Regions from separate parts of the Homo sapiens genome. Here region 1 is linked to region 2. The links come from fine-mapping of genetic effects on gene expression. A gene starts in region 2. The other region holds a variant in brackets. All regions are shown on one strand. Distances are between the middles of the regions. Region 1 overlaps POLE (DNA polymerase epsilon, catalytic subunit). Region 2 holds the start of ANKLE2 (ankyrin repeat and LEM domain containing 2).

Region 1 (4,388 bases), 110 kb after region 2:
AGGAATTTGAGGTTGTAGTGGGCTATGATGGCACCTGTGAATAGGCACTTCACCCCAGCCTGGGCAACACAGGGAGAACCCAACTCAAGAAAGAAAAGAAAGAGGTTACAAAATTGAGCCAGAATGAGTGAAACAAACAATACAACCAAAATGTTGTTCTTTGAAAAGACTTAGGAAAATAGTCACATCTTTTTCTTTTCTTTTGAGACAGGGTCTCATTGTGTCACCCAGGCTGGAGTACAGTGGCGCAGTCATGGCTCACTGCAGCCTTGACCTCCCAGGCTCAATTGATCCACCTGCCTCAGCCTCCTGCATAGCTGGGACTATAGGCGCACACCACCACATCCAGCTAATTTTTGTAATTTTTTGTAGAGACAAGGTTTTGTCATGTTGTCCTGGCTGGTCACATCTTTTTCAGGACAGAGTTTTTTATTTTAATGAAAACAGACATCATTATAGATATAGTAAAGCCTAAAAAAATGGAAGGATTCCCATTTTCTGCTAAACAGTTGGAAAACATAGATGGAACGGACAGTATCCTCAAGTTATGCACTGACCTAAGAAGTAATAAAAACCTGAATAGAACTTTAACCATTACAGAAATTGACACTTAAAAAGAAACAGGCCAGGCGCAGTGGCTCACACCTGTAATCCCAGCTCTCAGGGAGGCAGAGGCGGGAGGATAGCTTGAGCCCAGGAGTTCGAGACCTGCCTGGGCAATATAGCGAGACCCCGTTCTCCACAAAAAGAAAAAAAAAAGAGACGAAAAAAAATAAGTGTAAAAGAAACATCAAACCCAAATGATTTTTAAGAGAAAAAGGAAAAAAAAAACCCTTAGCTCATTTGGTAACCTTGGCAATCCTTGTTACTTTGGTAACATAATTGAAAACAGGAAAGGAAAGTTACGGGCCATGAACAATAGATGAAAAAATATCAACATACATGAACAATAACAATATGACCAACTAGGACTTATGCTGGGAATAGCAAGCACTGTTTAATTTTAGAATTTGCCAGGTTAGTTTTTCTTGGGAGAAATCCACTAATTCATCATTAAAGGAGAAGGCTCGTAAGATCATCTCCAATAGATGCAGAAACAACATGCGGTAAAACTTTAACATCTGCTCATGTTAAAGTTTGAACAATCAAAATCAGAATAGATGAGATGTTTCTTAACCTGATAAAGTGTTCTTGAAACCTAACAGCAGACCTCATACTTAACCACAAAACACTGGAAGCATTGAAGTAAGGAGTAAGAAATGGATGCCTGTTAACCACTGCTTCTGTTCAAAACAGTTTGGAGATCCTAGCCAGCATAATTAAACCAGAAAAAGAATTAAGGATTGAAAAGGGAGACATCAACTTATTATTTACAGGCGATGTAATTTGTTAACAGAAAATGTAAGGAAACCTAGATTTTGTGTTAACTTATATGTATTTCAGCAACAATTAGATACCAAGGTAAGATATAAAAGTCTATTGCTTTCATTTATACTAGAAACAAAATATTTTTTGAAAGATACCATTTACAATAGCAATAAATAATGTACTAAGGAATAAATTCATGGTAACAATGTGTGTAAGACTTTTACAGAAAAAATTACACAACTTTTTTCTTTTTGAGACATGGTCTTCCTTTGTCACCCAGGCTAGAGTGCGGTGGCAAGATCATGGCTCCCTACAGCCTAGAACTCTTAATCTCACGTTATCCTCCCACCTCAGCCTCCTGAGTAGCTGAGACTGCAAGTGTGCACCACCACACCTGGCTATGTATTTTTTGTAGAGGCTGGGTCTCACTGTTGCCCAGGCTGATCTTAAACTCTTGGGCTCAAGTGATCCTCCTGCCTGGGCCCCCCCCAAAGCACTGGGATTACAGGTGTGAGCCACCATGCCTGGCCTATACACAACTTTATTGAACATATAAAAATTTACCTAAGTAACAAAAAGAGGTACCATCTTTACAGATGAAAGGACTCAGTATTAAAATATGGCAGTTTGCCCCATATTAATTCATAAAATTCAGTGTAATTCCAATAAAAAAGAATCTGCCAAAAGCTTTTTGGATAGAACTTGACAGACGAATCCTAAAATTCATATAAAGGGTAAGGATAAGAATAACCAAAGAATTTTGAAGAATAAGGAGGGCACGTTGATCTTACTATGTAACGAGACACACTATCATGGCATCTTGACAAGATGAGAGGAGAGCAGTAGAGCCGATTGGGAGCCTAGAAACAGACTCCCCTGTTAGTCGGAAGTTGGTAGGTCACAGATCGTTAAGGAGAGAGTGGACTGCAGTGAGTGATGCTGGTGAAAATGGTTTTTCATATTTGGAGAAGTAAGTTGTTGTATCACACTGAGTGTGAAACTAAGGCTGAGTGTGATGGCTCATGCCTGTAATTGCAGTGCTTTGGGAGTCCAAGGAAGGAGGATCAGTTGAGCCCAGAAGTTCCAGACGAGCCTGGGCAACATAGGGAGGTCTCGTCTCTACAAAAAAAATCCGGCACAACATTAGGCATGGTTGTGCATGCCTGTAGTCCCAGCTACTTGGGAGGCTGAGGTGGGAGGATCACTTGAGCCTGGGAGGTTGAGGCTGCGGTGAGCCAAGATGACCACTGCACTCCAGCCTAGGTGACAGAGCGAGACCCCTGTGTCTTTAAAAAAAAAAAAAAAAAAAAAAA[G/AAG]GAAACTACAATCTTTGGTAAACAACTCAGGAGACTATGATGCTGGGGTGGGAAGGGCTTTTTTAAGGCACATGTGAAAAACATCACAAAGGGAAAGAATGATCAATTAATTAAAAGTTAAATCTTGTGTAGTCTGTGACAAGAAAGGCAGAATGTTGATAATTGTTGACACTGGTGATAAGAACATGGGAGCTCATTACTGTGCTTTCGTGTATGTTTGAAAACTTTCCTGATAGGAAGTCAACACACACAAACTTACATGTAGCACAGAAGTCACCATGAAACAAAGGCCTGAGTCACATTTTGAAGATGTTTAGAATGTATAAAAGTTAGAAATGGCTCATAAACGTGTTAGCTATCTATTGCTGCATAGCAAGTAACCCCAAAACTTAGCAACTTAAATGCACTCGTGTATCCGAGGGCTCCACTGGAGAAGGAGCCACTTCCGAGCTCCCTCCCATGGGGATGGCAGGACTCGGTTCCTCCTTGGCCTTTGTCTGGACGTTATCCTTAGTCCCCTGCTCCATGGGGCTCTTCACAGGACAGCTCACAGCATGGCACTGGACTTTTGAGAGAGTGCCAGCCAGGCAGAAGCCACAGTGTTTTATAGCTGCTCTCAGGAGTGGCATTCCATGACTTTTGCTGGAATCTGTTCATTACGGGCAAGTCACCGGGTCCCACCCCCACTCAGGGAAGGAGTCACACAGGGTGTGAACACCAGGAAGTGGGGGTCGTTGGGCCATTTTGGGAGCTGCCTGCACAGGGCCAAGATGTTCAGCCTTACTGTTGATGAGGTAAATGCAGCATGATGTATTTAGATAGCAGGTCACACTGAAGGCAAGTAAGTGTGGTGGCATCAAGTAGCAAGATTGTGGGAAGTAGGAAATCCCTGGTGCTAGAGGTGGAGGTGGTTGTTCTCCGGGACCAGGCAACACATACAGAGATGGTCATTGAGTCACAGTTTGTAGTTTTGAAAAAGTAGGCGCTTGTCATTCTTCATTTGCAAAGTCATGGGTAGGTAGGCTGATGTGTTTATATGATAAATCATTTCACATCAGTTACAATGAACGAACCATATGTGCATGTTTCACCCGGTGTCAGTCTCAAAAATACATGGCTGAATAAAGAAACAAGTTGCAGGGACAGGCATGTGGCTCACGCCTGTAATCTCAACACTTTGGAAGGCTGAGGTGGGTGGATCACTTGAGGTCAGGAGTTCGAGACCAGCCTGGCCAACATGGTGAAACCCCATCTTTACTAAAAATACAACAAAAAATTAGCCGGGCTTGGTGGCAGGTGCCTGTAATCCTAGCTTCTTGGGAGGCTGAGGCAGAATTGCTTGAACCCAGGAGGCGAGGTTGCAGTGAGATGAGATCGTGCCATTGCGCTCCAGCCTGGACAACAGAGTGAGATTCTGTCTCAAAAAAAAAAAAAAAAAAAAAGGAAACAAGTTGCAGTCAGATGTGTCCCACATGTTACTATTTAGGTTAAAACTTACAGCTGTGGCATGTGTCTGTGGACATGTGGTAAAAATTTAAAGGTGTGTGGGGGCAGACAGAAGAGGGCTGTACCCATTATTTGCAATATTTTCTTTCTTACAAAAAGCATTCTGGAGCAAACATGGCAAAATGCAAAGATTTACTTATTGGTGGTATTGAGTGACGTTTTATTTTTCGGTTTGATCTTTTCACTTTTTTTTTGAAAGAG
Region 2 (4,388 bases):
CTGCCCGCCTCGGCCTCCCAAAGTGCTGGGATTACAGGCGTGAGCCACCACGCCCGGCCAAGGGGGGTTAGGGTTTCAACATACGAACGCTGGGGACAGACACTCAGAATACAGCAGAGGTGTACGTTTAACTTTGAAAGAAACTGCCTCACTATTTTCCAAGGTGGTTAACTCAGTGTTTGCTCTTGCCAGCAAAATTTGATATTGCCAATTTTTAAATTTTAGCCATTCTGGTGGATTTCAAGCAGCATCTCATCGTGGTTTGAATTTCCATTTCATCCATCTTCAAAATTACTGACCCTTTCTTCTGTAGTGCCCAACCAACCATTAGTACCATCCAATGATATTTTTTAAGAGATGGGGTCTTGCTATGTTGGTCAGGCTGGCGTGCAGTGGCTATTCACAGGCGAGATCACGCTCATGGCAGCCTCGAACTCCCGGACTGAAACTACCATCACCCCTCACGCTCCAGAGTTGCTGAGACTACAGACCTGAGCCACCTCGCTCAGATCAATTATGTTTTTAACCAAGGATATCAATTATATTTTTCAGGTCTTTCATTTTCATTTAATAATATCTAAATTAGGCGGGGCGCGGTGGCTCACGCCTGTAATCCCAGCACTTTGGGAGGCCGAGGCTGGTGGATCACTTGACATCAAGAATTCGAGACCAGTCTGGCCAACATGAGGAAACCCCGTCTCTACTAAACATGCAAAAATTAGCCAGGCGTGGTGGTGGGCACCTGTAATCCCAGCTACTTGGGAGGCTGAGGCAGGAGAATCGCTTGAGCCCAGGAGGCGGAGGCTGCAGTGAGCCGAGATCGCGCCACTGCACTTCAGCCTGGGCGACAGAGCAAGACACCGCATCAAAAAATAAATAAAACATCTAAATTACATACAGTAAAATCCTCCTTCCCTTTTTCGAGACAGGGTCTCACTATTAGGTTGGTGCAAAAGTAATTGCGGCTTTTACCATGACTTTCAAAATATTTGCCCGGGCTGGTCTCGAGCTCCCGGGCCGTGGGGATCCTCCCGCCTCGCCTCCCAAGGCGCTGGGACTCCGGACGCAGCCGCCGCGCCCGGCAAAATCCGCGCTTTCAACTGCGCGTCAGGGCCCCTTGGTGAAGGAGCGGGAAGCTCCGCCGGTCTCCATAGCGCCGGCGGCCTGTTCTGCGGGTTCGCGGGGGAGTGAGAGGCGCTTCCTCACTCCTGCTCCAGGACGGGACGACGGCCGCAAACAGTACTCGGGCTCGGAGCACACGAACCCGGAGGCCGCTTCGTTCTCGGAGACGCACAGCGCCCCACGGACGCCAGGCCGGGGCCGGGAGGCGCGAAGAAGCGCCGCCCCGCGCCCGGCCCCGCCCTGGTGGCCTCCCCGGGCCCCAGCCCCGGCCCCCGCCAGCACATTGCGCTCCCCGCGCCTCGCCGGTCCCAGGACCCCGCGTCGGGCTGCCCGCGCCCCGCCTGCCGCGCCCGCCCGTCCGCTCGCCCGTTCCCGCCCGCTTGGGTCCCAGGGCCGGGGCCGCGCCCTCGCCGGGCCTCCGCGAGCGGGGCCGCCGTCCGTGTCCCCCGCGCCGCCCCGGCCGCCTCGAGCGCGGCGCCGTCAGGCAGGGCGCGGGCAGCCCGGCGCGGGGTCCTGGGACGGGCGCGGCGCGGGGCGCGGGCTTCTCGGCGGCTGCGGCCCGGGCGGCGGCGATGCTGTGGCCGCGGCTGGCGGCGGCCGAGTGGGCGGCGCTGGCCTGGGAGCTGCTGGGCGCCTCGGTGCTGCTGATCGCTGTGCGGTGGCTGGTGCGGCGGCTGGGCCCGCGGCCGGGAGGTCTGGGCCGCAGCGGGACCCCAGTTCCTCCGCCAAGCGCGGCCGCCGCCCCCGCCTCAGGTAAGGCCCAGGCGGTCGCTGGGTCCCCGCACCCTGGCCCCTTCCCCGCCCCGACGCCCTCCTCGGGCCTGGGGTCCCGGCCGCGCCCCTGGAGCCGGCAGCAGTTGGGCGAGGCGGCCGGGGAAACCAGGGCCGGTCGGGAAAGGCCATTCCGGCCGCGGAAAGGGCAGTTGCGGGGACTTGGCTTCCCGGGCCGGGGGCGGAGGGGCCACGCCGGGTTCGGGGGTGAGAGCTTTCCCGGGCCCTGGAGCAGCCTCCGGGGAAGGCGGCGGGGGCCCGGCGAGGCGTTAGCGGAGACTCTTGCTGCGGTCTCTCGAGACCTGGGGAGGGATGGCCCAAAGGAGGGCGGCGCGGGGAGGAAACCCCTGGGTCCCGGATGTGTTTGGAACGTGAAGCCATTGCGGTTACTGGTCATGGAACATAAGGCAGAGACGGAAAAGGCAAATGTAACTCAGGGGTTTGGGGCCAGAGGAAGAGGGAGAAGGTGGCCATTTATTGCTTTGCGGTAGACTGTCGGGTCTGGGTGATGTGGAGATCAGAGGTGGGTTTTGGTCGTTTTAAGTTTGAGGTAACTGATACAGTGAACTGTGTATTTCAGCTCCATCCCCTTTTCCTGGCATACAACTCTTGAAATCCCGGGAACCTCCAAAGTGATGTCTTTTGTAGGCTGAGTGGACTGGTGGCCGGCAGCCCCTAGGGAGCTTCTGGATGGGGCTGGTCGCAGGAAAGACCAAGGCAGGGTTAGAGGTTCTGGGGACTTTCAGCCCCACCCCCAACCTCTGGGGAGGAGAGAGGGGTGAAGGTTGCGTTGATCACCAGTGGCTGATGAATCACGCCTGTGAAATGAAGTTCCTGTAAAAACCCAAAAGGGCTGGGTTCAGGGAGCTTCCAGATAGTACGTGGGGGTTCCTGGAGGCGGTGCCCAGAGAGGCCCTGAATTTCCAAGCGCTTCCCCCCGGTTTTACGTCACGCATCTCTTCACCTGTATTCTTTGTAATCCTTTATACTCTGCTGGTAAGTGTAAGTAAAACATGTCTGTGAGTTCGGGAGCCACTCTAGCAAATTACCGCAACCTGAGGAGGTCACCGGGTTACGCCCCGTCGGTCCCAAGCGCAGGTCAAACAACCTGGGCACTGGAAGTGGGGGGCAGTCTTGCGGGGCTGAGCCGTTAACCTGTGGGGGTCTGCTGGTATCTCCAGGAAGACGCTGTCAGAATAGATGACTGAATTAGGATGACAGACGACACCCAGCCTGTGTCCACTGCAGAACTGACGACCTGCGTGATTTGTGGGGAGAAAATCCCCACATACCTGGTGTCCGAAGCATGTTGCAAGACTAGTGGGAGAAACTGAGTTTGTTTTTACTCTAAATTGTCAGACTGTTAGTCACTGCGGAGAGGTGCTTTCTGATGATTGAGTGGGGATTCCTGTCCAATTGTGTGAGTTTGTGTCTCGGCCCTACCACTTTTTTTTTTTTTTTTTTTTGAAATGTAGTCTCGCCCTGTGGCCCAGGCTGGAGTGCAGTGGCGCGATCTCGGCTCACTGCAAGCTCCGCCTCCCGGGTTCAAGCGATTCTCCTGCATCAGCCTCCCGAGTAGCTGGGATTACAGGCGCCTGCCACCACGCCCGGCTAATTTTTGTATTTTTAATAGAGACGGGGTTTCACCATGTTGGCCAGGATGGTCTCGAATTCCTGACCTCAGGTGATCCACCTGCCTCAGCTTCCCAAAATGCTGGGATTACAGGTGTGAGCCATCGCACCGGGCCCTACCACTTATTGCTGTGGGCTTAACCTGTTTTCAGCCTGCTCTTTTAGGAATGGGGATGATAGTGATACCTGGTTAGGCTTTTTTGGGAGTTGGGTAAGTGCAGCACTTGGTATGTGTTAAGCACCTCTGAGTGCTGTTACTGTCACCAGCGGCATCATCCAGGCAGAGCTGCGGACAAGGTGGCGGCGGGTGAGGGTGGTGTTTTGAGAATGGCTGAAATAAAAAAATACTGATTTATTTTATATAAAAATATGTTTTTATATATGATGTATAATATACGTATATCATGGCATATGATACGTGTATATCATATAGCACATATAGTATACATATATATAGTCAGCAGAGATTTAGAGAAACTGGGCCTCGTGCATTGCAGGTGGGGACGGTAAGTGGTGCAGCTACTCTGGGAATCAGCCTGGCAGGTTTTTAGGAAGTTAAACCTGCCCTGCATTCCTGAGCTTTTATTAGACAAATGAAAACTATTTTCACACAAAAACCCATATTTAATGTTCATAGCAACTTTATTTGTAATTACCAGAAACTGAAATAACTCAAATGGTTAAACTTGCACACTGATACCCCGGGGTGCCACTCCGCAGCGATCCTCTCTGCCACGTGGGTGCCCCGGGGTGCCACTCTGCATGATCCACTCTGCCACGTGGGTGCCCCGGGGTGCCACTCCGCAGCGATCCTCTCTGCCACGTGGGTGCCCCGGGGTGCCACTCTGCGTGATCCACTCTGC

The links. PIP is the estimated chance that this variant, and not a neighbour inherited with it, causes the effect.
Region 1: its variant is the best candidate, but not a certain one, in a credible set for the expression of ANKLE2 in lymphoblastoid cells (GEUVADIS, PIP 0.61).

Annotation. Positions count from the first base shown.
Region 1 is chr12:132,650,608-132,654,995 of GRCh38, reverse strand. The region is part of intron 29 of POLE (DNA polymerase epsilon, catalytic subunit); the gene reads left to right. Among named protein-coding and RNA genes, the nearest start is that of P2RX2, 34 kb to the right of the region's middle. The variant G/AAG (reference allele first, on the strand shown) is at 2,682.
Region 2 is chr12:132,759,105-132,763,492 of GRCh38, reverse strand. ANKLE2 (ankyrin repeat and LEM domain containing 2) reads left to right here and starts at 1,661. Exons shown (of 13, transcript NM_015114.3): 1 at 1,661-1,875. The coding sequence starts at 1,695. RefSeq lists enhancers at 993-1,092, 1,447-2,315 and silencers at 1,243-1,532, 1,623-2,212.